5 separate regions of the Homo sapiens genome follow, and all the other regions are linked to region 3. Evidence: fine-mapped expression QTL. A gene starts in region 3. Each other region holds a variant in brackets. All regions are shown on one strand. Distances are from middle to middle. Region 1 overlaps TSPAN5 (tetraspanin 5). Region 2 overlaps TSPAN5 (tetraspanin 5). Region 3 holds the start of TSPAN5 (tetraspanin 5). Region 4 overlaps TSPAN5 (tetraspanin 5). Region 5 overlaps TSPAN5 (tetraspanin 5).

What was found. PIP is the estimated chance that this variant, and not a neighbour inherited with it, causes the effect. A credible set is the group of variants that fine-mapping cannot tell apart.
Region 1: its variant is the best candidate, but not a certain one, in a credible set for the expression of TSPAN5 in unexposed skin (GTEx, PIP 0.71).
Region 2: its variant is the best candidate, but not a certain one, in a credible set for the expression of TSPAN5 in fibroblasts (GTEx, PIP 0.59).
Region 4: its variant is the best candidate, but not a certain one, in a credible set for the expression of TSPAN5 in lung (GTEx, PIP 0.75).
Region 5: its variant is the best candidate, but not a certain one, in a credible set for the expression of TSPAN5 in skeletal muscle (GTEx, PIP 0.64).

What each region holds. Positions count from the first base shown.
Region 1 is chr4:98,626,074-98,631,177 of GRCh38, reverse strand. The region is part of intron 1 of TSPAN5 (tetraspanin 5); the gene reads left to right. Among named protein-coding and RNA genes, the nearest start is that of TSPAN5, 30 kb to the left of the region's middle. The variant C/T (reference allele first, on the strand shown) is at 2,165.
Region 2 is chr4:98,506,528-98,511,631 of GRCh38, reverse strand. TSPAN5 (tetraspanin 5) reads left to right here. Exons shown (of 8, transcript NM_005723.4): 2 at 3,904-3,954. Among named protein-coding and RNA genes, the nearest start is that of TSPAN5, 150 kb to the left of the region's middle. The variant AT/T (reference allele first, on the strand shown) is at 2,686.
Region 3 is chr4:98,655,687-98,660,790 of GRCh38, reverse strand. It overlaps TSPAN5 (tetraspanin 5), which reads left to right and starts at 2,180. Exons shown (of 8, transcript NM_005723.4): 1 at 2,180-2,645. The coding sequence starts at 2,565. TSPAN5-DT (TSPAN5 divergent transcript) reads right to left here and starts at 1,889. Exons shown (of 3, transcript NR_148380.1): 1 at 1,769-1,889. LOC112267901 (a long non-coding RNA gene) reads right to left here and starts at 2,068. Exons shown (of 3, transcript XR_939016.3): 1 at 1,919-2,068. RefSeq lists silencers at 2,023-2,202, 2,456-2,615.
Region 4 is chr4:98,555,416-98,560,519 of GRCh38, reverse strand. All of the region lies in intron 1 of TSPAN5 (tetraspanin 5), which reads left to right. Among named protein-coding and RNA genes, the nearest start is that of TSPAN5, 100 kb to the left of the region's middle. The variant A/G (reference allele first, on the strand shown) is at 2,915.
Region 5 is chr4:98,608,523-98,613,626 of GRCh38, reverse strand. The region is part of intron 1 of TSPAN5 (tetraspanin 5); the gene reads left to right. Among named protein-coding and RNA genes, the nearest start is that of TSPAN5, 48 kb to the left of the region's middle. The variant C/G (reference allele first, on the strand shown) is at 2,785.

The DNA.
Region 1 (5,104 bases), 30 kb after region 3:
CGAGCGATTCAGCAAAGTAATTGCAAGGTTTCTCTAATTGTTAAATATCTACAACAGGCTGAATTTGGATTGGCTGAAAAGAAAGGTGAAATGAGGTCATCAGAATTACATGATTTTTTTCAAGTTCTGGCATCTTGTGTTCTTTGCCAAGCAGAAATATTCCAGTAGAACTGTGATAATGCCTTTCATCTATCTGCTGAGCCTTCCAGATGGCAGTTTCTCAGCCAGTGAGCAAAAGAAAGGGTGTTGAGATTTATGAGTAAGTTGATTCCCTTCGTTTGTACTTCCCAGTGAACTCTCATTCGCTATTTGTGCTAAGCACCAGTGGCAAGTTATCCTCACATCTTTAGCTCTGCAGGGCCCTTAAGCCAGTAGGCCTTACTTCAAGGGGAGGAGGGCTTCAAATTCAGAGTAATAAATAGCTGTCTAAATAGAGCCCTTCACATACTTTCTCAGAGAACTTTTTGTGATCTAAGTGGACTTAAGTTTCTTGAGGACAGGGGCACTCCTTTCTCCTGGGTAGCACCAATGCACAGGAAGCTTGGCGTTGGATTCCGTGGGCCCCTCCCTTTCTAGTTATGTGCACAGTCTCCCGGGTTGAGAGAATCCCTCCCTTTGCTAAGTCATCTTCATTCAATCCAGGGATGTTTAGGGAATATGCGTGCCTCGGATGACAATACAAGATGGATTAAGGTGATTCTTGTGCTTTGAGAGCTCTCAGTCCAATGGAGGAAAAACATATAAATAAATACACACATAAACGAGAAGTGGTGTATAAGTCTAAAGATCAGGTAATGAGGGAATGTTTTAGAGGAGGTGGTGCTGCTGTATGTATTGGAGGCGGGTAGGGATTTGCTGAGCAGAACATGTGCCATGTTGTTTTCTCCATCAGGCCTCATGGCTGGAACAGCTGCAGTGCTTTTCGTTTGGTGCCTCCTCTGCTTTGCCTTTGTCCTGTTCTTGTTCACTTTGAGCACCCTTGCAGCCTACCCTGGGCATAACCCTCCAGGAACTCTGATGCTGTTTAGTAGATACTCAGAGGTTACCACTTAATCCTTGTTGGTTAGTTTTGTTCCCCAACTCGAGCGTGAATTCAGGACAGGGCCCATCTCTGACCACACCAAATGCAGTCAGTGCATATGTTAAGATTTAGGGAAAGCGTTTGGGTTGGTTAGTCGAGTATTTTCATAGATTATTATTACCTGGTTATGTAAGTATGACAAGACAGTTTAACAATGACACAAATATAAGCAGAGGATCTGATTAAAAATACTTTTTTTTGAAAGGGAAGCATAAGTTTGTGGTCAGCAGCAAATAACCCATTTGATCTTCATTCATTTATTCTTCCATTTATTCACTCACTAACAGTCTGTACCTTTGTGAATAGCAACAGTCTTTTTCTTCATTGGTGTTTTTTGAATGCTGGGTTTTTACTGCCCTGGGGATTTTCTTTAAACCTGATAGTTGTTTTGATAAATCATCTGGATACCAGCTTTGAGCTAATTCTTTTCTATTAAGTACCTCTTAGAGTGGCTGACCATAAACCATTTGAGAAATCACTACATTTTATTAATGACTTTTGAGATTTAGCAGCAACTTAAATTAATAATACTGGAGTGTGCTTTGGATAAAAGACCAGGAGACTGCTTCATTCTGCAAACCAGAGCAGAGATGAGAATGTTTGCATTAGGAGAACGTAATTTATCAGCATTTTAGGCTAGTGTGTCGATTGATACAAGGTTGGGCAATAGTGGTAGGCAGTGTTATAAGTGCTGTTTGTATGTATCAGCTCATTTAATCCTCCCAGTAACCCTTTAAGATGTCTGCACTATTATTTTTCACATTATTCTGATGAGGACATCGAGGCACAGAGGGGTTGTGTGACTTGCCTGCAATCTTGGTTGTGTGCTCAGAAATAGTCTTTTTGAGACTGAAGATATTCTGGTTATGTGTAATACACAGTACAACTCAAAGACTGTGAAATAGTTCATAGACAAATTATCCATTCTTTGCCACTTTAGAGTAATTATGCTTATTGTTTCTGTTTCAGGATAATATGTGTGTGTTTATAAGCATTTTTTCCTTTTTATTTAATTGCAGTAACATATACATAAATAACTATGATGGCTAGTTTTGAACTCATTTAAAAACAAGTAAATTTATG[C/T]TTTGATAAGCTAAGGTACATTCAAAGCATTCCCATTTCCAAAGCAAAGTGTTTTCAGTTAAAGATTATAGATGTTGCCTTTTGCCAGGGATGCTTGTGAGAATGTCATTTAGAGAAATCTTAAAGTAATTTATCCATAATATTAACTTAGCATGCCTTCTCTCTGCAATGTACAATGTATCATAGGACAATGTATGATACAGCTCAGTTTTGATATATCAGCAAGTTGAGTAGTAATTTTTGTTTGTTTGTTTTAGTTGTTTTAAAAGCTGGTGTTGCAGATTCCTATGCTTAGAAGGACCAGGCAGAAAATAAGCCATTAAGGGTGCTGGGAATGCAATAGGGAGTGATGGGGAGTGTGGTAAAGGGGTCAGCAATGCTTCTGCCATGCCTATCAGGGAGCTGGTTTCCATTAGCTGTTGGTTGACCCAGGAATCTGTACCTGTGTTGCCAGATCTAACCATTTTCCAGGAGAGGCTGGAACTTCATATTTAAAAAATGAGAATTTGTCAACTTTAATAATTTGGAAGAAAATTCAAATTAAACCAATACCAGGCAGTGTGGTGTACCCCACATTACAGAGGAAAGTAGGGGACTTGGGAGGTACATGAGTCAATCTATAGATGCTCCTGTTGTCATGTTAAACTTGTGCTTGCTTTCAGTTGCTGTTAACATTTTGGGTCCACTGTATCTAGACATGTCCTTCAAAAGTTGCATGTAAGTTAATTTTTTTTTCTGTATTTAAAAAATGGCCCCACAAACACTAGTCTAGATGTTGAAAAAAACCCTTATACCTTATTATGGAGACTTCTGATGAGTCCTTTTGTACAGTGAACAATCACTTGCTGTATTTACGTTTGTACTTTTGTGTTTAAAATGGGGAATGGTGTTAGATATTGCATACTGCTTGAGTTAAGGAGGTCGTTAACCAGGAATGCTTTGGATTACTCAGATTATTATTGCACTGGTGTTTGTTGTAATGGAATTTGACCTGTCAGGGGAGCTGTAGATGTTTGGATGAGTGTTCAGTCCTTAATACTGTTATCTAAATTCTAGGCATGTTGCCTGTAACTTCCAGTTTCAAAAAATCTATGTCAATCTGTTCTTTTATAACCTAGTGCTGTTGTTTTTTTCCCTCTTGTTTTATATTTAATCATTCTCTTTGGCTCACAACAGCAGTCCAGTCCAAAGATTTACTTTTTCTATTTTCAACCCCATCATTATTTTTGTGTAAAAAGTATGTTTTGAGTTACAGCAATTCATGGAGATCAAGCTTCTACTCTGTAGGGAGAAGAGAGATGTCATTTACTACAGAGTTTATACACACAAATGTTCTGCTGCATGCTGTGTTCCCACTGAAATCCAGGGGGTTTATTTGCATTTATACTTAAAGAAGAATGACCGTATTTGGCTGACTCTAAGCCAAGATGATACAGGCCCAAAGTTTTTCATGGAGGAATGGGGGAGTAAGGGAAATAGGAACATTTGGAAGAAATAGTTGTTGTTTTTCCCTGTTTTATTCAGTGGGCATTTTATTCACAGATCATTTGATGCATTGCATTTACTCGTGTTATTCTGGTTCCTTTTGTGTTTTTTTTTTCCTTTTGAAACAACTTCACACTTACAGGAAAATGGCAAAAATACTAAAATAAGAACTCCTATAAACCTTCACTGATAAAATCCCTTCAGTTTTCTCCAGTTATCCCAGTAACGTCCTTTATAGCAAAAGGATCCGGTTCAGGATCACTCATACCCAGCTGTCATATCTTTCCAGTCTCCTTCATTCTAGAAGCATTCTTCATTCTTCCTTCATCTTTCATGACACTGACACTTTTAATTACAGGCCAGCTGATGTGTAGAATGTCCTTCCTTTTCTTAGGAGATGTTTTCTGTCCTTCCTTGAAAACCCCACTAGTGTTACCTGCCACGAGGAGAGCTAGGCGCTCTGCCCCCTACCCCAAGCTGGTTGCTCTCTCTTACAATGCTTCATTAATCAAGTACCCTTTTTTGGAGCATTGATGATATTCATTCATCCTTTTAGCCAGTAAATATTTTTTGATGTCTATTACGTGCCAAATGGGATACATTTAAGAACAAAGCAGACCAAAAAAAAAAAAAAAAAAAAAACCTGCTCTCATGAAGCTTACATTTTAGTGGAGGGTAACAGATAACCAACAAGAAAAAATAAGTAAAACAGCAAGTACATTAGATCATTAGATAGTGATAAACGCTAAAGAGGATCGAATCAGGCAGGAAAAGGGATGGGCAGGTTCTTGATAAAGTGGCCAGGGAAGGCCTCCCACACTAGTGATTGTGGAGCAGGAACCCCAAGGAAGGGAAGGAACAGGCTGTGGGGCTAGCTGCAGGAAAGCGGTCCCGGCAGAGGGAGCCTGTAGGGGTGAAGGTTCTGCTGCACCAGGTGGGCCAGGGGTGAGGAGGAGGCGGTCTGGTGGCTGGAGCCAAGCAGGAGGGGAGAGGAGAGTGGTAGGAAATGAGTCAGAAAGGCAGAGCAGGGAGATTATTCTAGGCTTGTTGCCACTGAGGGAGATGAGAAACTCTGGGGGAATTTTGAGCAGAGAAGTTACATGATCTGACTTATGCCTTAAAAATCCTTTTGTTGTTTACGGAATAAGCAGGTATGTAGGGATGGGGTCAAGGTTAGAAGCAGAGAGATCAATTTAAGATCAATTATGGGAGGTTATGATAAGCCCTTTGTGTATCTGTTTGTCCTATTAGCACATAAAGGGGACTCAGTGGTCTTCAACCTTTAGAATACATAAGATGTACCTGGGCTGTTCGTGAGTGATGCAGATTTCTTCACTGGGAAACCAGCATGTACCTGGGCTGTTCGTGAGTGATGCAGATTTCTTCACTGGGAAACCAGCATTCATTAGATCTCACCTGTGTTGTCAACAGCCAGCCCCAGGTGATTCTCATGTG
Region 2 (5,104 bases), 150 kb after region 3:
TACACTTACCAGTGCAGCTCAGTTTGAAACAGTAGTCATGTGCCATATAATGATGTTTCAGTTAACAGCCAACTGCATATACAATGGTGGTCCCATAAGATTATTATATTGTGTTTTTACTATGCCTTTTCTATGTTTAGATACGTTTGGATGCCAGATACTTACCATTGTATTACAGTTGCCTACAGTATTCAGTACAGTGACATGCAGTATAGGTTTGTAGCCTAGGAGCAATAGGCTATACCATATAGCCTAGGTGCGTCATAGGCTGTACCATCTAGGCTTGTGTAAGTACACTATGATGTTTGCATGACTACACATTTCTCAGAACGTATTCCCTTTATTAAGCAACACGTGGCTGTAGTTTAGCCATACTTAGCATTCAACAAATGCCGGCAAAATTATTGTTATTTATTTTAAAACATCAAAATTTGGGTTGACAAACATTTGTACTGTACATTTGCATATATTGCCATGTGGGAAGATGCCTCAGATAAGATGCCTCAGATATATTTTTTTCCATTTCAAAAGAGTAAAGGGTTGACTTTAAGACTTCTCAGCTATTTCCTGCAAGTGGGCCTCCCTGGGTTTCAGAATGAGGTCAGTTTCGTGGTTTATGGTTGTCTTTTCTTTGGGAGGTGGGAAGGGGAAACTGAATGTGCCTCAAGTATTGCATGCCTGTCTCTGTTTTTTGGCTCTTCTCTGTTTAATTATTGGGAACTGGAACAACTTGATTTTAAAACAAAACATATGGTCTGAGAATAATTGGGAGGACATTTGCTAGTGATGTAGCACTGAAGGTATGTATCAAGTTGAGGCCCAGGCTTGCACCACTTGCTTGCTTAGGTATTGAGTGTTTCCCTTAACTTCAAATTGTGTTCTTTCCCAGTTCTTAAACCCTTGTTTGGAAAGTCACAGTCAAAGCAGGAAATATGGGAGCAAGATTATAAAGGAAATTGTCTGTGAGTCTTCTTTAAATCCCTACTTTTTTTCTCTCTCCTCTTTATGGAAAACCATTGGTTTCCAAGCTATTTATATGGCTCGTGAATGAAAAAAGTTGTCTCAAAGTGCCAAGAGGAGAGACGAAAACTTTATTTAAAAAGGAGAATGTGGACCCACCATTGAATTTCTCTGTTCTTTTGCTTAACTCCATTGTGGACACCAAAGTGGGGAATTTCTGTTCCACAGCCAGTTCTTATGTGAAGGCAAGGTTTTTATCTCTCTTTACCTTTTCCACACCCCTTTGCTTGCTGGGGGAGGAATATATGATATGCTGATCATGTACCATGTAATTCCAGCCTGAATGCCTCAACTTTTTATATCATGGGAGCAAAGGGGAATTTATCAGGACTGCTAAGAACATGTATTTCTCTTGTTCAAGTCTCTGCTCCTCTGCTTAGAAGCTATGTGCCTCTGAGCAAGTTATTTAAACTCTCTAAACCTCATTTTCCTCTTTCCTAAAAAGGGGATAATAAGAGCGCCTATTTCAGAGTAAAATTGTTGTGAAGCTTTAAAGAGACATTGCACACAAAGCACTAAGCATGATGCCTGGAAAGTAATAAAAACAAATCTTAGCGATCAAGCAGAGGCCTTCGGCAGGAACATGTCCACACCATCAGCAGCAGGAGGGACAGTGAATACTGCGTCAGGGAAAATAACCAAACATTTGTCCATGAGGAGCTTCAGCATTGGAAAGTCAGCCATTTCACTGGGTTGTGTTTGATGTCAATGGGTTGAAGTCAAAGCCTTAACTCTGTGCTTCTGTGCTTCCTAGGTCTCATGGGAGCCTGTACACTCACTTGTCAGTGGTCGTTCTCTTTTGCCCAGCACCTATAAATATGAGAGTAACATGCTGAATTGTTTTACTTTTGTGCTACAGAGTCCTAAGTACCTTTGAGTCTTTTGGAGATTCACTTGTTTTGGATCTGAAATGTAAAATGAAATAGCTCTCTGACCAGGGCTGAGCACGGTTTTTCAGTTGGGATAGTAAAACGAGAAATCTTTCTGAACACTTTCCAAGGAGTCCCCTATAAGAGCAAGGGGTAGGAAGAAAGGGGTCTTCAGTTCTTGCCAAATCAAGGACATGATTTTCTGTATAGGGCTCAGAATGTATTGTGTGTTGTCTTGCTTCAATGTCAGATGAGTGTCGAGAGCTTCGGGAAGGTCTGCTTTTTAAAAACACCACTATGTTTTCGGAGCAGCTAATTGTCTTTTGTCAGTCCCCTTTTCTTTCTGCTCCTGCCATCTGTCCAAGTCCCGTTTGGATTTATTAGTGATTGCTTACAAAGTATCAGGAACTCCCTGCTGAGAACAGTGAAGCCCTTGCCCAGTGGGCAGGTCTCGGATTTCCCTGGAACTGTAAAAAATAACCACTCTCACTCATTTTTTTCTCTGCATACCCCTCTCAGTGGACCACTTTCCTCACATTAACTTAATCAAGATGTTAGTAAAATAAACGGTGTGCTGCCATCACACTGAAACTTCTTGTCTCTTTTCAGTGTTTGGAAAGGAAATTGAGAGTTGCTATTGATAATAAAGATGAAGCATATCTTTACTCATGGCCAATTACACACAGTCCTGATCATTGGATTTTTAGTGGGTGGACAGCTCTGTACAATGTGTCATCAAGTCTGTGTCGCCCCAGTTACAAAACACTCCATTGTTTTCTATATCAAGGGGGAAAAA[AT/T]TATGAGATACCATGGATTTTAAGATACATCCCAATTTCAGATGTGTTCAAATGTGGGGAAAATATATGTATCTTATAGCAGATGGAATACAGTGAGAATTAATTAAAATGGAAAGCCCTAGTCCGGGAGTGGTGGCTCACACCTATAATCTCAGCATTTTGAGAGGCCGAGGCGGGAGGATTGCTTGAGCCCAGTAGTGTGAGACTAGCCTGGGCAATATAGTGAGGCCTTGTCTCTACAAATAATTGAAAAATTAGCCAGGCATGGTGGCATGCGCCTATGGTCCCAGCTACTTGGAAGGCTGAGGCAGGAGGCTCGGTTAAGCCTGGGTAGTTGAGGCTGCAGTGAACTGTGATTGAGCCACTGCACTCCAGCCTGTGTGAGAGAGTAAAACCCCATCTCAAAAAAAAAAAAAAAAAAAAGAAAAACAGTAAAATGGAAAGCCCTCCTGGTTATCACCTGTTCCTCTCCTGGCATTCCCCCAGTCCTCAACACAGCTAATTGACAGAACGGTGAGATTTGTGGGTATGTATGAGATGTGCCTCTGCCTTAGGGCTGAATGCGTAACTCAGTCCCATGTGTTGTATACTCTGTGTATGCATGAAGTTGTGGAACTGAGTCAAAACCAAGAAGGGTGGTGGGAGGTCCTCTGAACTAAAATTTACACAATCGAAGTTTCTGAAAACAGAACTTAGGAATTTTCTTTGGGTTACATTGATAAGATTCTTGTTACCTTTGGAAGGCATGATCAAAGAGGGACATCCAAGGCTCTACATGCCCCTCGCTGACCTGGCCCATTTGTAATGGCTCAATACTGAAGAGAAGATCCCAGTTCCTCTAAGTTAATGCCTCTGCTTATCCATTTTCTAGTGACCACAGGCCTCAGATCCATGGGGAATCCGTTTCCTCCCCTACCCTAAAAGGCAGCATATTAAATGTTATTGATAATTTCAGTGTACTCAGGATTCTACCTAATTATTACTCTTCATAATCTGAATGACTTCTAACCAACTGTGTGTCTCCAGCCCTTCTTAATGCTGTAAAAATTTTAAGTAGGGGGATTATGGTATTTATTTTCCTGGTAAAGATAAGTGCTCACACTTTAGGAAAAGCTATTTCCCAGCCAGGTAAAGTGACAAAAGAATTGATTGAAAAGTTTCTTCTTTATATTAGCGGCATTTTCCCTTATATTTACACTGCTTTCTTTCTTTTTCAGTTTTTGGGAATAACATTTCTTGGAATTGGACTGTGGGCATGGAATGAAAAAGTAAGTTGAATATCATGACAATGCACACATCGTGGTTGTTAGAGGCTGCACATCATATTATGTATTATCCCCCTTTCTCTTTGACAACCACAGAGTATAAACATGGCTCTTTAACAAGAAAAAGTGTTGGTGGAAGATTAATGTCATACTCTCAAAGACACTTTAGGAATTGTGCCTAAATTGATGACTGCATCAAAATAATTACTGAAGTAACAATACACGTGCTCAACAGAGAATATACCTTGGAATTTGATCAGTTAGCCAAAGATCGATGTTCCTATGGGATATTTTCTCACTCAGGCACAAGAATTCCAGTAATGATTATAAATATCACTAAACCACCTGTAGCCTTTTTTTCTCTTCTGCTTTTTTTCTTCAACTCTTTGGAAGATAACTCAAGATAAAAACGATTTTTTTTAGTGTGTTATGTGGTAAACAACTATTAGCATGTGGATTGAAGGAAGTGGGATATAACTTCATGTTTGAGTATCAAATACACTCATCATTAATGTAAATAATGGGAATGTTTGGCTGCTGGTGGCAAGTATTAAGAAATATTCAGTTTATGATCAAATACAGTATAATAAAAGGAAAATCTGGAAATACAGAGTAATCTATGTGACAGTGAAGATACAATGTTCTGGGCAGTTTCTGCTCTAAGCAACGCACTCATGCAGACACCCCCTGTGTCCACACCTCTCCTTCCCATCGCACCTTCTAATTTTTCTCTACAGCTCCCCCTACTGAGGCCACCAGTGGAATTCAACAGTGAATATAAACACCCGCCCCCTCCTCCCAGCTTTTTTCCTTCCTTCTTTGCAAGTGAAATCACCTGCAGCATTTCATCTATCCTTGTATCTGGCTATACACAAAAGCTTTATTATCTCCCACGTAAGGACAAGGGGATGTATAGAATGGTTAAAAGCTGCCATAAACTAAAATCTAGCTTAAAATTTCCCAGAAGACCATTCTTTGATCCCGTAGGTGTTTCACCCTCTAGCCTGACCCTGGCCTGAAGCTGAGAGTTCCTTTGAAGTGGTAAATGCATTAAGAAAGGAGAGAAAAACTGGGAAGGTCCAGTCAACAAAAGCCCCTCAGAGGCCAGTAGGCATTTCCACAACTAAAACAATGTTCAGACAGACCATATAAA
Region 3 (5,104 bases):
GACAGGGATACAGTCAAACTTCAGTGGCTGCCAGAGACTGGGGGGAGGAAGGGATAAATAGGTGGTGTACAGAGGACTTTTAGGGCAGTGAAAATACTCTGTATGATACTATGATACTATGAGGGTGGGTTCATGTTATTCTATATTTGTCCAACCCTATAGAATATACAGCCCCAAGAGTGAACCCTAATGTAAACTATGGACTTTGGGTGATAATGATCTGGCAATGTAGGTTCACTATTTGTAGCAAATGTGCTACTTTGGTTGGGGATGTTGACAATGGGGGAGGGTGTGGGGTCGGGTATATGGGATATCCACTGATTTTTATTTCAAAGATAAATCCACTTAGAGATCAACTCAGTCATCAATTGCATCTAATTTCTGGTCCTTTTGAAATGTGTCACATCAGCTTAGGACAGACCTTTCTTCTGACTCATCCAGTATTCCTGCAGCGACTGTTCTATTTATATACAGAATTACAACATAGCTCCAATAGGCTTAGGTAAAGCTTGTCAGTACCTTCCTGTTAACAAGGAAATCTGCTGCTGAAAGACCTTACTTTTGAAGTCTACCAGATTGGTGGTAGTATGGCCTGTGTTTTGAGTGGGTAGAGAGCACTTTTGAGGGAGTGAGGATTATTTCATCCAAAGGGCTGAAGCTACTGTTATCCCGTGTCATAGCTTCTGAGGTACTGAATGAGTAGGATCTCCTGGCCCTCCCATCTCTGTGGGTACCTCGTTCATACTTGCGACCTCAATATAGCCTCAATCCTGCTGAAGCCCAGTACTATCTCTAAATGTGGTTTATTGCAGGAAAAAGTAGCTTCTTGACTAGCCAAAACTTGACTGCCGGTTGTCAACTAGCCAGTTTTTGAGAAAAGTGAGAGGTTGTTACGTAGGAAACCTTATAACTAGAGGCTCTCAAACTCAAGTATTTAAGTATCATCTTTTAGATTTCTGTGTCCAGGATCGGGTTGCACTGGGTGGTGCTGGAAAAATTTTTTGATCTCACCTCCTTCTAGCCTTTTGAATCCTTAAAAATATTCCCATAGACATTTATACACAGTCCTGGGCGGTTCTTCCTTCTCCTTCCGTGAAATACTGGTACCTGCTTTGCCAACACCTATGAAAGTGCTCCAGGAGGAGGGCGGATAAGCAACTAATGAGCACACCTGCTCAGGTAGGGTTCTAAAACAATTTCCAGCCACCTGTTCTATTCTTCCCCAGAGTTCAAAAGCTTAATGGTTCGTGATCCAAAAACCCAATTCAGATTCCCCAGAAGACCTCCCTGGAATCCGTTGTGGATTCCTTCCTAGAGTTAGGAGGCAAGCAGGTTTCTTAGGCACTATTCTGTCGGGGTAGGGGGGAGCGTGCGCTGTCCGGGTTTGTGTGGTTGCAATAGACCCTAGGGCGAGGATCGCATCCCGGGCCAGGACTCCCTTGAGCCATCTCTTTTTCCTCGTCCCCATTTCTAGGATAAAACCCATTTCTCCGGTAGGTGGGGAGGTTGGGTTAGAGTCACACAGGGATTCAGGAAGCTTTCCTTTTCAACGTCCCATCCCTTCATCCTTTCCTCCCACTTCCCGTGGCTCTTTTCTCCACCTTCCCCAACTACCCCCTTTTCCATTCAGCGAAGTCCACGACGACTTTCCTTCCCTGTCCAGTGGCATCGCATCTTCTCTAGCCACATAAGCCTGTTGTGGAGGAGGGGGCGCCAGTGTGGCTACCCTGGAAGGGGTGTCGGGGGTGGCTCGCAGGTCCTCACTCACCCAGCCCTCTCCCCGAGGAGCGACCCTCTCGCCCGCGTCCCTCCAGAGCTGCGCCGCTCATCAATCCCGGTCACTCTGCCAGCCTGCTCCCCGGGCGCCCTTCCTTCTCCCTCTCGCCTGCGGTCCTCCACCCTCCCACCCCCTACCTACCCCGCAGCGACGTTCGGGGTCAGCGGCGCTTGGGGTTGGCCCGAGAAGGGGCGGGGATAAAGCGAGCGGTGGAAGGAGGCGGCTACGTGGTGCCACCGCCGCCCGGGAGCGCCCGACCCCGTGCGCGCGCGCGCCTAGCCAAGGCTTGGGCGGCGGGCGGAGCTGCGGGCGGCGCGGGCGGAGGAGCAGCCGGCCGGGCGGGCGGAGCGAGAGGCGGGCGGAGCGAGGGGTGGGAGGGCGCGCGCGAACGGGCGGGCGAGCAAGCGAGCGGCGTCTCCACCAGCATCTGCCGCGGCCGCCTTTGCCCGAAGCCCGGGGACGAACCGACGGACCGACCGCCTGGCGCACGGACGCGGGCGCTCGCTTTGTGTTCGGGGCTAGCGTCGGCGAGGCTTGAGCTTGCAGCGCGCGGCTTCCCTGCTTTCTCGCGGCCACCCCGGCTCCGGCGGCCTCGGCGCGCGAGGGGCTGGAGGTGCGGGAGCCGCTCTCCGCCGGTCGGTCCCCGCGCGGCTGAGCCCAGGCCGCCAGCGCCGCGGCCCCGTGCGGTGTCCCTGAGCTCCTGCTCCCCGCCGGGCTGCTCCGAGCAACGGTGCTTCGGAGCTCCAAACTCGGGCTGCCGGGGCAAGTGTCTTCATGAACCCAGAGGATGTCCGGGAAGCACTACAAGGGTCCTGAAGTCAGTTGTTGCATCAAATACTTCATATTTGGCTTCAATGTCATATTTTGGGTAAGTTGGAGCGCTCCTGGGATTCCAACTATTGTGGCCGATCGATTCGCGACGATTTCCCCCACGTTGTTCGTTGCCTTTACTTTTCGCAGCCCCGCAGGCGCTTGCCGGAGCAGCATAGAGGCATTCGCCTTCCGCCTTTCCAGCTTGCGCGTTGGAGAGATAAACATTTAATCCTTTCGAGGAATGGGAAGAGGTGAAAAGAGAAATCGAGGCGGAAAGGGGGCACCGAGGCCTTCTGGTGGCTTTTTGAGGAACGAATAGCAGGGATGCAGATAAAAGAAAGGGTTCGGCAGTTTGAGAAATGAGCAACCACACGAATTGGATTTGCTCTCGGTGGGATATAGATGTTGGGCAGAGCGTGGTGTCATAATAGGGAAGGCTAATCGGGCACGGCCGACCCTGAGGTCCACCTTCTAACAACGATCTGATTGGACGAGGGCTTGGCTCCGTGTTGCCGCGGCTGGTCTGTGCCATGCTCAGCGTGTATCTTCTTGCACCATCTCGGGCTTTGTGTAGGATGCAGATGCCGTGGTATATGGTCCTGTAATTGCACGTAAATAACGTTTCCTGCACGCTCTCCTCTTCAGCTGGAAAGCGCTCCCTGTGCGTAATGGACTGGTCAGTGGGGGTGCGGGGTAGAGGGATTTATTTGTATGTATATATCATCGTCAGGATAATAAGTCACCGTCAACATATATTTCAGTGTGTTCCTGCCCCACGTCCTCATTTTTAAAGGAGTGACACAGAGCGGGCCGTTTGGGGGAACCTTTGTAGAAATGCAAAGGAGAAGGTGTGCGAGGCATGTTTTATTGGGGAACCGAGAGAGCAAATGCTTTAACACAAGATTCAAATGATGCTCTGCTTGGGACTGCAATGTGTTGGGAACCTATTGTAATTAGGCTGGGACGCCTACTCTTTTTGTTTGTTTGTTTGTTTTGATTCTTTTCCTTGATCTGGCAAACGTGTTCAGCAGCCAGACAAAGAGTTCTCCAGGACAAGGGGAAAACGTTGGTTCAAAGACCATGTTATTTTTCTTCCCCTTCTCATCCCATCTCATCCTCTTCCTCAGTGGGCACCCGCATTTCCATAGAAAGTAAAGATGGTGGCTGTCTGGGTAGGGGGTTCTCTAAGTTGCTGTTCAGTGTGAGGTAAACAATGCTCCAACTGCAGGATCAATAATTATCCACAGCAGTCTGAACACGGAATGTATTTATTTGAATTCTCCTTTAATTTGGGCTGTTTGCTGTACGTATATACATCTGTGAGAATAGTTGTCAATACGGCTCTTCATATTCTTTTTTTGTACCGCACTCTTACCAGGTTATTTTATTTTCTGTTTTCTATTATAATACCTTGCATTGGTCATGTATGTTTTGTGAGGGGAAATGCAAGGGATTGGAGACCACTTTCCGTGTCAGCATGTCATCTGTCTTCAGGACTAATAAAGATAATGAGGGGACACATGAATGGATGTCATATCCGATCATTCCACAGGCAGTTTTTTGCCAGTGTTGTGCATGATTCCCGGGAGCAGTCACCCACCTCCCTGCAATTAAACACTGCTACAAGTACAGGAAGAAGGAATTATTTTCTTTCTTTGCCCCTTCTCCATTTGTGAAAATGTTTAAAAGTGGTGGGTAGCCACGGTTTTGAGTAAGATATTCTGATTTGATTGGAACTTGAAACTTTGTGACTTGGAGAGGCACGGACTACCGAACTGGGACTGGTTCTTTTTGGGGTAGTGAGTTCAGGCCTCTTGTTTCTACTTGAACATTTCTAAAAGTTGCACATTTTAGCTACCCAGCAACAAAAAGCACCCAGGGACTTTCTCTGCCGTTTCCTAGCAGGGGGTGGTAAGGAAATAAAAGGATTTGGGTCTGTTTCCCTGACAGTTTGCTGTAATTCTGTGGAGTGCATAGAGACAAATTTAGCCCTTTCTATGGATTAGGTTGCAGCAAAACCCCTGGAATTGTAGAGAGCTTCAAAGAATTGCAGAGTGCTTGCTTGGAGAGGTCCAGAACAGAGCCGCATGTTTTCTGATTGTGAAGGTCTTCATAGGTGGGTGGGTGAGTATGGGAAGCCTGAAAGGAGACCTAGGCTATGGGACTAAACTAGCTGCCCCAGGCAGAATTGTTAAGTGAGTGCCTTCCTTATGAGGGCCCTTCACTTACCCTGCCTCTTGCCTTCCCTTCCTCTCCTCTCTGTGCCCAAAGCCTTCCTCTCAGATACTCCCTCATACCTTTCCTATCCTGCTCTCTGCCTCAAAATTACCCCATATTTAAATTTCCTGCTTTATTGTACCATGGTCTCTAGTGATGATCAACAGAAAGGCAACCATATGGTTTTGGTTAAAGTAATTCAGACTAAGATGTTAGTGACTGAAAAGCTGGGGTCAGTAGCTTGGCAGCTTGCTTCTGAAAAGTTACACACCTCTGCTCTCTACAGAGTCACCAACC
Region 4 (5,104 bases), 100 kb after region 3:
AACACGCCCCCTGCCTCCCTCAATTGAAGATATTAGTCTCTTCAATCTCATTCAATTTTATTTCTCTGTGCTTAGCATTTAGAAGCAATTAAATATGTTTGTGGAATGAACAAACTAATTAACAGCATATTTAGAAAATCTCCCTGTAGTAAATATATTAAAGTTTTAGAAAATCATGATAATCTAAGTGAAATATTTTACAGATTATGGGGAAAACATGAGGGATGAAAATTTACCCTGCTCTGCTTTAGCTTTTGAAAAAGTCTGCTTATGAGCCACTCTCTTCATTGCTAATAATAACACCAGTGGGGGAAACTTGAAGAAAGAGGTATTTGTCACCAAATGGTAAGTTAGCAGCTTGTCTTGTTATCTGGGTTGGAACACAAAGTCATTAAGTGGCATTTGGACTAAATCTGATTGGAATTTAGAATCTACTTGGAGACAAACAAAATATACTTCTGCTTAGAAAAATTACATTTTCCACTTTAAGATGTTGTGGATTAGAAAATGATAAGAATTAATTTTAAGAGAACGCCTGTTTTTTGAAAGGATTGGTTATATGTTGGTGGAAATTCTTCAGGGAAGTGACATCTCTGGAGGGGGAAACACAAAAACAGCTCAATACAGTCAGTCAATTTATTCTACACTTAAGGAAAAAATAACTAAGTCTGCTTGCTGGTTTTCTGTGGGCTGTTAACAGCTGGTTGACTCAAATTTCTGCTTTCTACCAATTGTGAAAATTAAGCTTTAATTTAGAGGAGCACCTGGATGTTGAGACTCTGTCTGAAGATACAGGGGCTAAAAATGTTCAGATTCTGTCTGAAGATACAGGGGCTATGGCTTGTCTATGGTTACAGTTTTTGCAAATGCAGAAAAGCTTTTCGAGCCTACTTATGTTATGGAGTATTTCCAATAGTGGTTATTAAAGTAATTCAAGGAAAATCAGTAACTAATGATAATAAAAAAGTTGCCTTAAAATAGTGTTCAAGAAAATAGAGTGTGTATGTCATATTTTAGCACATAGAAAGGCTTAAACCCTCTTGTGAACTCCTACTTAACCATTTCTTTATTATACTCTTCTTACTCAGATTTATAAATTTTCCTTCCTTTCTGCAAAAAGACAGAGATAAATAAAGATACTAACTTTTCCCCGTCATTATATCACCCCATTACCCTGTTATGACAGTAATATTCATGTTGAATATCCGGTCATGTTTAGCCATTTGTATTGTGTTTAAAGTTATTTTTTATGATTTCCAAATTTGAAATACTGGAAAGGAAGATCCCAGCCTGATGGAAATTTTTACCAGAATAGTGATTCCTTTTTGCTGTAGAAAACATGGGAGGGAAATTGTCTTAGTGTCGTTACTGTCTAGTAATACTGTTTGAATTCTTGAAAGGCTTGTTTCCCACGGTGTTTTACTGCATTATATTCATGGAAGGGAACATGCAAGCCAGAGACAGTACAGGTTTTAGGCAAAGAGGCATGGGTTAGGATTCTGCTCTGCCACTCTGAAGGGAGTTATTTCTTCTGGCTTATTCTGTGTCTTTGTTATTTAAGTGAGGGCATTTACAGGACCTACATCATAGAGTGCTGGGAGATTAAACAAGAAGACATTCACAGGTTATGCCCTGCTGCTAAAGAAAAGGAATTACCATTTTCAATTTGTTGTCTAAAGACCATCTGAAAATCTTGCTGTCCCTCAGTTAGACTCTGGCCTATCCACAGTAGGTCAGCTTGCCCACATGGGTTTCAAGCAACTCCACTCTGCTCTGAGGCTCGCTAAGGGTGAACAGGTGATCATGAATGTGGAAGGCTGAAGAAGAAACTGGAAAAAGCTGAAACTGAATATCAGCATTTAGAAACTGCATTTGGAGTGCTGAGATAATAGAAAGCTTTCAAGGCACTTTGGAACTCTACATATGTTAATCAAGAGCCTCAAAAGCAGCCCATCGATTGGCAAACCAATCTCTTCAAGTGCCACCACATTAAAGTCCCTGGGGAAGCTGTGGATATTAGCTAGCAGCGGTGCACAAGCCGTTTACCCTCCCTTCGCTGCAACTTTAAAAACTTTTTGCCTAATAATCTCTGTTCTAAATTCAGTATGGATTTACTTAGCCAGCAGATTGAGATCCAGGGGGACAGTGTGAGACTTGGAAGAGTTTTATATTTACAGGAAAGTTGCAAAGATAGTACAGTTTCCATTTACTGTGCACCCATTTTCCCCTGTTACTAACACCTTATGTTAGAAATGCTTGTTCCCTGGTGCTGCAGAGAAATAAATGTATGAGCATTCGAACATACATTTAATAAAAATGGCCTTGCTAAGATGATTAAATTTATGTTCGAGTGCTGTTTCTTTGCGTCACCGGGGAACAAGTATTTCTAACACCTTACATGTTAATATACTGCATTTGTTACAACTAATGAGCCAATATTGATATATTATTATTAACTAAAGTTTGTACCTTATTCAGACTTCCTTAGGTTTTACCTAATGTCCTTTTCTGTTCCAGGATCTCACCCTGGGCACTACATTACGTTGTTCATGGTTTCTTAGGCACCTCTTGGCTGTGACAGTTTCGTAGACCTTTTTGTTTTTGATGATCTTGACAGTTTTGAGGAATAGTGTTTAGGTATTTTGTGGAATGTTCCTCAGATTTGTCTGTTGTTTTTCTCATGATTAGACTAGGGGAAGACCCACAGAGGTTAAGTGCCATTTTTGTTGTATCAGGGGTACATCCTGTCAACATGACTTATCACTGATGTGATCATGTCAACATAATCTTGATCACGTGGCCGATGCAATCCGCTGCCAGATTTCTCCACTGTAAAGTGACTCGGCCCACCTCCTTTGGAAGGAGGCCACTACGTACAGCCCTTGCATAAGGAATGGGGAATTTTGCCCTTCCC[A/G]GTTGTGGGCAGAATATTTACATAAATTATTTGGAATTCTCAGTTGTATTTCTAAGTGTGTGATTTTAAAAACTACTTGGATGTTAAAATGGTTACTGTTGTATTCATTATTGAGTGAATACTTACAAATGTGGTCTGATGAACATTTTATTCTACCTAAGGGAAAAAAACAGCTTCCCAAATTGCAGCCACCCTGCCTAGTTCAGAGACTGTAGAATTTGTATTCCTCCCCGAGTGTGTTCTTAGTAGCACGCCAGAAGTGCCAGATGCTACCCTCTCTTTTTCTGTGTCATGATTTAATACCATTTGTGCATTTTCTTCTGCTTCAGTTGATTTAGTGTCATTTTTGGAGACCACAGACCTATTTGTATTTTATATGTTACTATACAGTGTGTATTCTGTTTAGAAAAATAAAAACGCTAGTATGATAAAATGTACTATTTTATTATCTTTATTTTTAAAGTGTTACTATCAAAGACATCCTTTGGTGTCTCATAATTGGCTTTGACTTTGTTGCTCTCAATAAGAGTATATGATTCCAGATTTTCTGTTTAGTCAATGTTTAAACTACTTCATGTTTAACATTTATGCACATTATAATACAATGTGGTAATAAGGGTCATTTGGCTTCTTGGCTCTTTCAAAATATTGGTATAATTTTTAACAAATTTATTTTGAAATAATCATTTCACTTTTTGATGAGTATAAACTTGGTGAGAATTAGAAACTTCTTCAAAATATAGAAGTCTATTTTCCTTATCTTTGGCAAAGAATGATAATAATTGGACTTCAAAAGACCCAGCCCAGTAGTCCCCACTGCTAAAAATGAATAATGGCCTATCTCAATCCACAGAAGGAAAATAAAATGGGCTAATAGAAACTTTTTCAGTTTCATGTTTTTCTCCTGTCAACATTTCATAAGTGTTTGGCATTTGCTACCACATCTCTTTTGGTGAGTATTAGTGAAAATGAATGAATAAGTAGTAAAAGAATGTTAACAGAAAAATTTGGACACAACCAGTTAGTTTAATAACTCTATTATTTTATTGAGAACACGCAAGTTTAGGGTATGGTGTTTTTTTATTCTTTCTTAGGGTTGAAATAATCTCCCCTGCCAGGTACGTATAAGCTATGGTTTTAGATGGCATTCATATACTGCCATTTCTGCCAGAAAAATTATTCCTCGTTCATAAAAAGAAGCAAAGTATCTCAGTGTTTCATATTTTTCCTCAATAGGCAGCTCTGCTTCCCAGTGCTTTATCATCAGAGCAAGTTTGAAACCCACCACGTGGGTGAATGAGATGCAGTTAGGGAGTCTCTGGGAGCTTCCTGAGACAGGAAAGCATGGGTCATCCTAAAGTTGTATAACAATCATCTGTGTATCCTTCTACAGGAAGGATGGAATTGACTTTTCCACCCACAGATTTGGCATAAAATGTCTCTGCATCTGGGGCCAAGACAGTGTGTAAGGATTGTGAAGTCCCAGTGGTTTGGGTAGTAGGTGAAGATGCCAGTTCAGTGCTGAAGAGCCATTCCTACCTGTGTGTGTGTGTGTGTGTGTGTGGGGGTGCTGTGTGTGTGGGGGTGTGTGCTGTGCACGTGTGTGTGTGCGCACGCACGTGTGTGTGCGCGCGCGTGTGTGGAGTGATTTTTCAGTCTTTTTGCAGGGAGGAGAAAAGAATGAATTAGTAGCTTTGCTTTTGCTAAGGATATCCTAACAGTGTGGTGGATCCTTTTTGTTTAACAGGGTAGGTCAGATTACTGAGGAGCTGTTGGTTTATTGTTTTGTCATTAGTGCCATGAAGCTGCTACCGCTGGTTGTGGGTAAAGCAAGGCACATGAAAGCAGTCTGAAAATTTGTATTCAAGCTAATTTTTAATTTTTAACTACTTGTTTACTTATTTCTATATTTACCCTTTTAGCATAATACCTGAAAACTTAAGGGGTTGGGAAATATCATTCATACAGCCAATTTTTTTTAATACCTTCTGTATTCAAGGCACTGTGCTGGGGAAACACAAGTGGATAAGATGGACATGGTCTCCATTCTCATGATGCATACAGCCTACTAGGGGAGACAGCTGAAAAACAACTACAGATATAATTAGAAGGAATAATTTCAGGAAGTGTGGTTAGTAATATGAGGGGGGAATAAATTCGCAAAGGTGGCCAGAAAAGACTTTACTGAGT
Region 5 (5,104 bases), 47 kb after region 3:
GCATATTAACAGTCATTGAAGTAAGCAGTCTGGGACCCTGTTGTGTTATAAGGGAAGGGATTTTGGACCTTGGTGTTTTGCAGAGGCCATATTTGCATAATTAGAGAGCACAGGATTATGGGTAAAATGGTTGCAACTACTAAACTAGCCTAGTTTATATGGATTCTTGTTCATTTGCAAAATACCTTTTCTGTGTGCTTGTTGAAACCATAATATCCTGGGTAGGTTTTATTACAATAACTTATGGTCTAGTAAACATATCTGGAAATACCATAAGAGAAAGCATAGGCAACATTTGTAAGCCTGCTGCTTTATGAAGAGATTGTGCTTATCAGAAATTGTAGCATTACTGTAAATTTTTTCTTTCATATGGAGTGATTTACTTGGTATTTCAGTATATTAATTTGCTAGGAAAATGTCAAGTTAGTACTTCTCTCAAAAGGGCATTGTGCATCTGAATCACCCGTGGAATTAAAAAAAAAAAAAAAAAGGTTTTGCCCTCAACCCAGATGTGTTGTGACTTAATCTCCAGTTCTGGGCCTGGGCACCCATCTAAAATGGTGAAGAGGACAGAAATGATTCTTGACTTCTTGGTGTGTACGTCTGTGAGGAAGCCAGATGATAAACACTGCAGGGGGAAAAAACCATAATTGTAAATTGTGATAAGTGCTACGGTGAAAAAATAAAACACGGGGTAAGAGACTGGCAGAAAGAATGTAGTTTTGATGGGCGGGAAGGCCGCTCTGAGGAAGTGAGACCGCAGCTGAAAACTCAGGGATGGAGAGGTTAGCCCTGTGGGGGGAGGGAGGAAGGAGCATTTCAGGCTGAGGGGACAGAGTAAGGGAGGCCTGATGTGGAGAGGGCTTGGTGGGTTTGAAGAGCTGAGATGATTGGGACTTGTGGCCAGAGATAGGGGAGCGGGGGGAGCCCCGCGGGGAGCGGGAGAGGATGGTGCTCCTGGCAGAGATGGCAGGTGGCCTGCTGTTTCTATTCTGTGCTCCTTAGTGTCTTGGTTATGAAATGACTTGCCAAAATGTCCCTTTAAAAGAAAAGGGGTCCTTGCCAGTTACAGCAGTGTCACTGTTTAGGTCTGCTAAGCAAATTCTAGGGTGTCTGATGGCTTTGTGTTGGGAGTTGTAAATGGATTTCATTTGAGAACATGACAAGAACTGAAAGATTAGTTTAAGCAAAAGAATTTAATTGAAGGATACATCATTGTTCTTGTAAATCCTTTGATATTTGGCTGTTGTCTTCCAGCCTTTTCATTCCCTGCATCCTGTCTGCTGCTTGCAGGACTGGGCTGTAAGCCTTCATTCACCTACAACCCTTTTGTATTGCTTGGAACTTGCTTGCTTCTTCCTCCTGCTCCTCTTGTTCCCCACTCCTCTTCTCCCTTCACCTCCCCATCCTCCTCCCCCTCCTCTTCCTCCTGCTTCTCATCTCTTCAGATGGAAGAGAGATGGGAAAGAGCATTCACTTAGTTATTCTTTGGAATAAAATATACGTCAGTTTCCAGCGAGGGAATTCTGGCAGATTTACTGACAGGTGACAGTGTCTGTGTAGAATTAGGATTCCTAGGAAACATTAGTTCTAACTACATTATTGATAACAATGCCATGTGCATTGTAAATTTGGGACCAGGCCCTGCATGCAGTTGTGTGGTGGTTCCCTACACAAGGGCTCCTGGCTGAAGGGCAAATGAGGGTGGAATCCACTGAAATGCAGCCCACTCGCCACCCTCCACGGCCCAGGCCAGGGGATGGAGCTGGGTCAGTCTGGAGGAAGAGGGTGTTCTTTTCTGTTTCTTACGCAAGCAAATCACCAGGCCCATTTCTTGACTCCTTCAGAGGTGCCAAAAGGGCTGGTGATAGCCCTGCCTGGGACAAACCTCAGTGACTTCTGGGTCGCACATTCTTGCCTGGGAAGACCCTGTTCTTACCTGGTAAGGCACAATTGAAACTATGATTGGTCCACTTCACAGACGAGGCAGCTTGTTTTCTCCCCTGGTGTGTTATTAGTTTTAATGGACATATTTGTGCAATCAGTGTGTACAGTTCATGTTGGTAAGCATCTGGCATATTTTCATTATTTTAGAATAATGCTATGCTGAGCTCACATTTCAGCTTCTTGTCAAAAATAGTAATATTCTGGTATGGCAGATTTCCTTCTGGGGCAGTACTTCCCACCAGTGTGTGCTGCCTGGATATAGTTTCATTCACAGAGGCTGCTTCACATCACATTTCAATGCATTTGTGCTTTAATAGTTGATTCTTAGTATTAATAAAATTGACCGGGTGCTTTCATCTCCAGTTTATAAAGGAGGAAATTGTGCAAGGGGGAGGCTAACTCACTTGCCCTAGACAAATTAGAGGCTTGTTTCAGGGTTGGAAAACAGGTTCTCATATTCCTTCTGGAATATGTTAAGGTGTGGACTAATCTCTTCTGTGACAAGGACATCCCTGAGTAGTACAGTGTGTCCTCAGATCGTAGTCCAGAGTTAAGAAGTCAGGGTTGGAGGAGTTCCTCTGCCTTCCTCCATGCCTGGCTGTCCAGATGGCTCCGTTTGTCACCATGTCTTAGCCAGTGGTGCAAGTGGCTGTGTCTTTAAGAGGGTGACCTCAAAGTTGGACACATTACATCGAGTCATATCACATCACGGTATAGTCACAGGAACAAACCTAGTTCCCAGGGAGCCTAGGAAATATAGTCTATACCTGGGGAGCGGGGTCAGGGGGAATCACATGCCTGACTAGAGCTAGGGGAGTTCAGTACTAAAAAGAGTAG[C/G]GGGGAGGATGCCGGGGCACTGACTACCACATTAGTCCTCGTTCCTCCCTGAACAGCCTTAGGGTGGGTGAGCAGCCCTAAGTGAGTTGTTAGCTAACAGAGATGTATAATGAAGGGGCACCACAGAGCATTTTATATTCCTACTGTAGCCCTAAATGAATAGGCAGCTCTTTGTACATACGCTTGAATATGCTTCTTGGAACCAGTTCATTCACTCGACAGATACGTGCTGAGCGCCAGTTCTTTGCCTGGGTGCTGTGTGGTCTAGTAATTGAAGGTACCTGTAAGATGGCCAGGGCCAGCCCTGCTCATCATGAAGGGCCTACTTATGTAGATAATTTTGAACCTCAAATAGGAGGGAAGTTGGAGTTGATTTACCTGTCATTAAGTTGTTAAAGAAAGATTTTTCCTACTGGTAGCAACTGAATGGAGCTCTACTATGGTTTGAATGTGTCCCCCAAAGAGCATATATTGGAAACTTAGTCCCCAGTGTAACCGTGATGGGAGGTGGAGCCTAATGGGAGGTGTTTAGGTCATCAGGGCTCCCCCTCATGAGGGGATTAGTGCTGATTATAAAAGGGCTTGAGGCTGAGTTCGATCTCTTGCTGCCCCTCATCTTTTGCATTCCACTATGGGATGATGCAACAAGAAGGCCCTTTGCAAATGCCAGCTCCTCGGTATTGTGTTTCCTAGCCTTCGTAACTGTGAGAAATGAGTTTATTTCTTTACAAATTACCCAGTCTGTGGTATTCTGTCATAGTGACACAGAATGGACTAAGATGAGCTCAGAGGGAGAGAAGGCTGTCTAGGCCCGGGGCCTTTGCTGTACAGCAGCTGGGCTAATGCCTCTGCGAATTATATTAGCCTGTTTGTGTTAAATGAGGAGCCCTCCTGCTTGAAAGAGGCAAGGCATTCTGCTTATGAAGCCAGAGAAATCAGTCAGGCAGCCTCTGACTTACCTTTGCCCTCCCCTTCTGCTCAGAATCCTTCAACTCACTGTCCGTCAGGCTCAGCCCTGTCTCCCCTGGTCTCTCCCAGACCTGCCTTTCTGGGTGTGGGGTCTTCTTGCCTCCCTAGGTAAGGGACAGATAATGCCTTGACCACCCAGGGAAGAGGAGTTTGGGACATTACCCCTGAACTGAGAGGTGGTGCTGATGAGAGTAATTAAGCACCCAGAGACATTGTCCTTCAATACATTGCAAAGGAAAGCTTGCTCAGAGTAGACCTGCACCTGGACACGAGAGGCTGGAGACTGTATTCAGGACAGTGCTCGTGGGGAGCTTCCTTCACTGCTCCACTCTTGTGTCCTGTGTTACAGGGGCTGCTGGCTGTTGCCACTGTTTTTCAGAGAATGGGCTGCCTGTACACACCTGACTTGGGTGATCATGTCTACCCAGGAGGACCAGCAAAAAGGGACAAGCAGTGATGCCATCTGGTTTTACCTCCAGCATTCCGAGCACTGCCCTGGCCCTCTCCCCCAGCCAGTGGTCGGGGTTGGGTGCGCCCCACTCTGGCTGCACAATAGAGTAACGCAGGAGCTTTAAAAACTCCCAACACCCAGAGCTCACCCCCAGCAAATCCGACCTAAATAGTCAGGCATGGGGCTTGGACAGCAGTATGTGTATATATTTTAAGGTTTCTTAGTTGAATTTAAATGTTACAGTGGGGATTGAAAATCTTGGTCTAGTGGTGGTAGCTGTTGGGTTTTTTTTCTTTTCATTTTTTTTGCATCCATTCCTGTTACTACCCTCTAGACCACTGTGATTTCTTAGTCTAATCCTGACTTGCTACCTGAAACCCTCTAAATGTAAGTCTCGTGCAAGAGAGTGAGAGGTAAAGTTTGGTTTTTATGATAAGAGATACCTTGCTCAGTAAGCAGAAATAAGTGCCATGTGTTAGTAACTACAGTTTTGTTTTGTTTTGTTTCCTGTGGGAGCGACAGAAAAGAGTTTACAGGGTGTGGTGGGGAAAAGAAGAAACGAACATCTCTCTGAGGGCGAGTATAAGGTTGTGGACTTAGTGGGAAAAGTCCTCAACTTCAAGTCAGAGAGAACTGTCGAGGAGAGAGACTGATGAAGAAGACACAGTGAGGTTTTTAGTGGTTAAAAACACAGCACTGCGTTTACATAGTCTATTTCCCCCCTAACAGTGGCAACATGTTGTGGATTTTCTTTTTTTTTCTTTTTCCTGGAGAGAAGCATGCTGCCTCTGAACAGTGGAGAGGAGGAAAATCATCAGCATCCTCATTGGGGTCAGGTGACCTGGGCCTCGTTCTTCCGCTGCCACCTGCCAGGGTTGGGATTGTCACAGAAGACTGTTC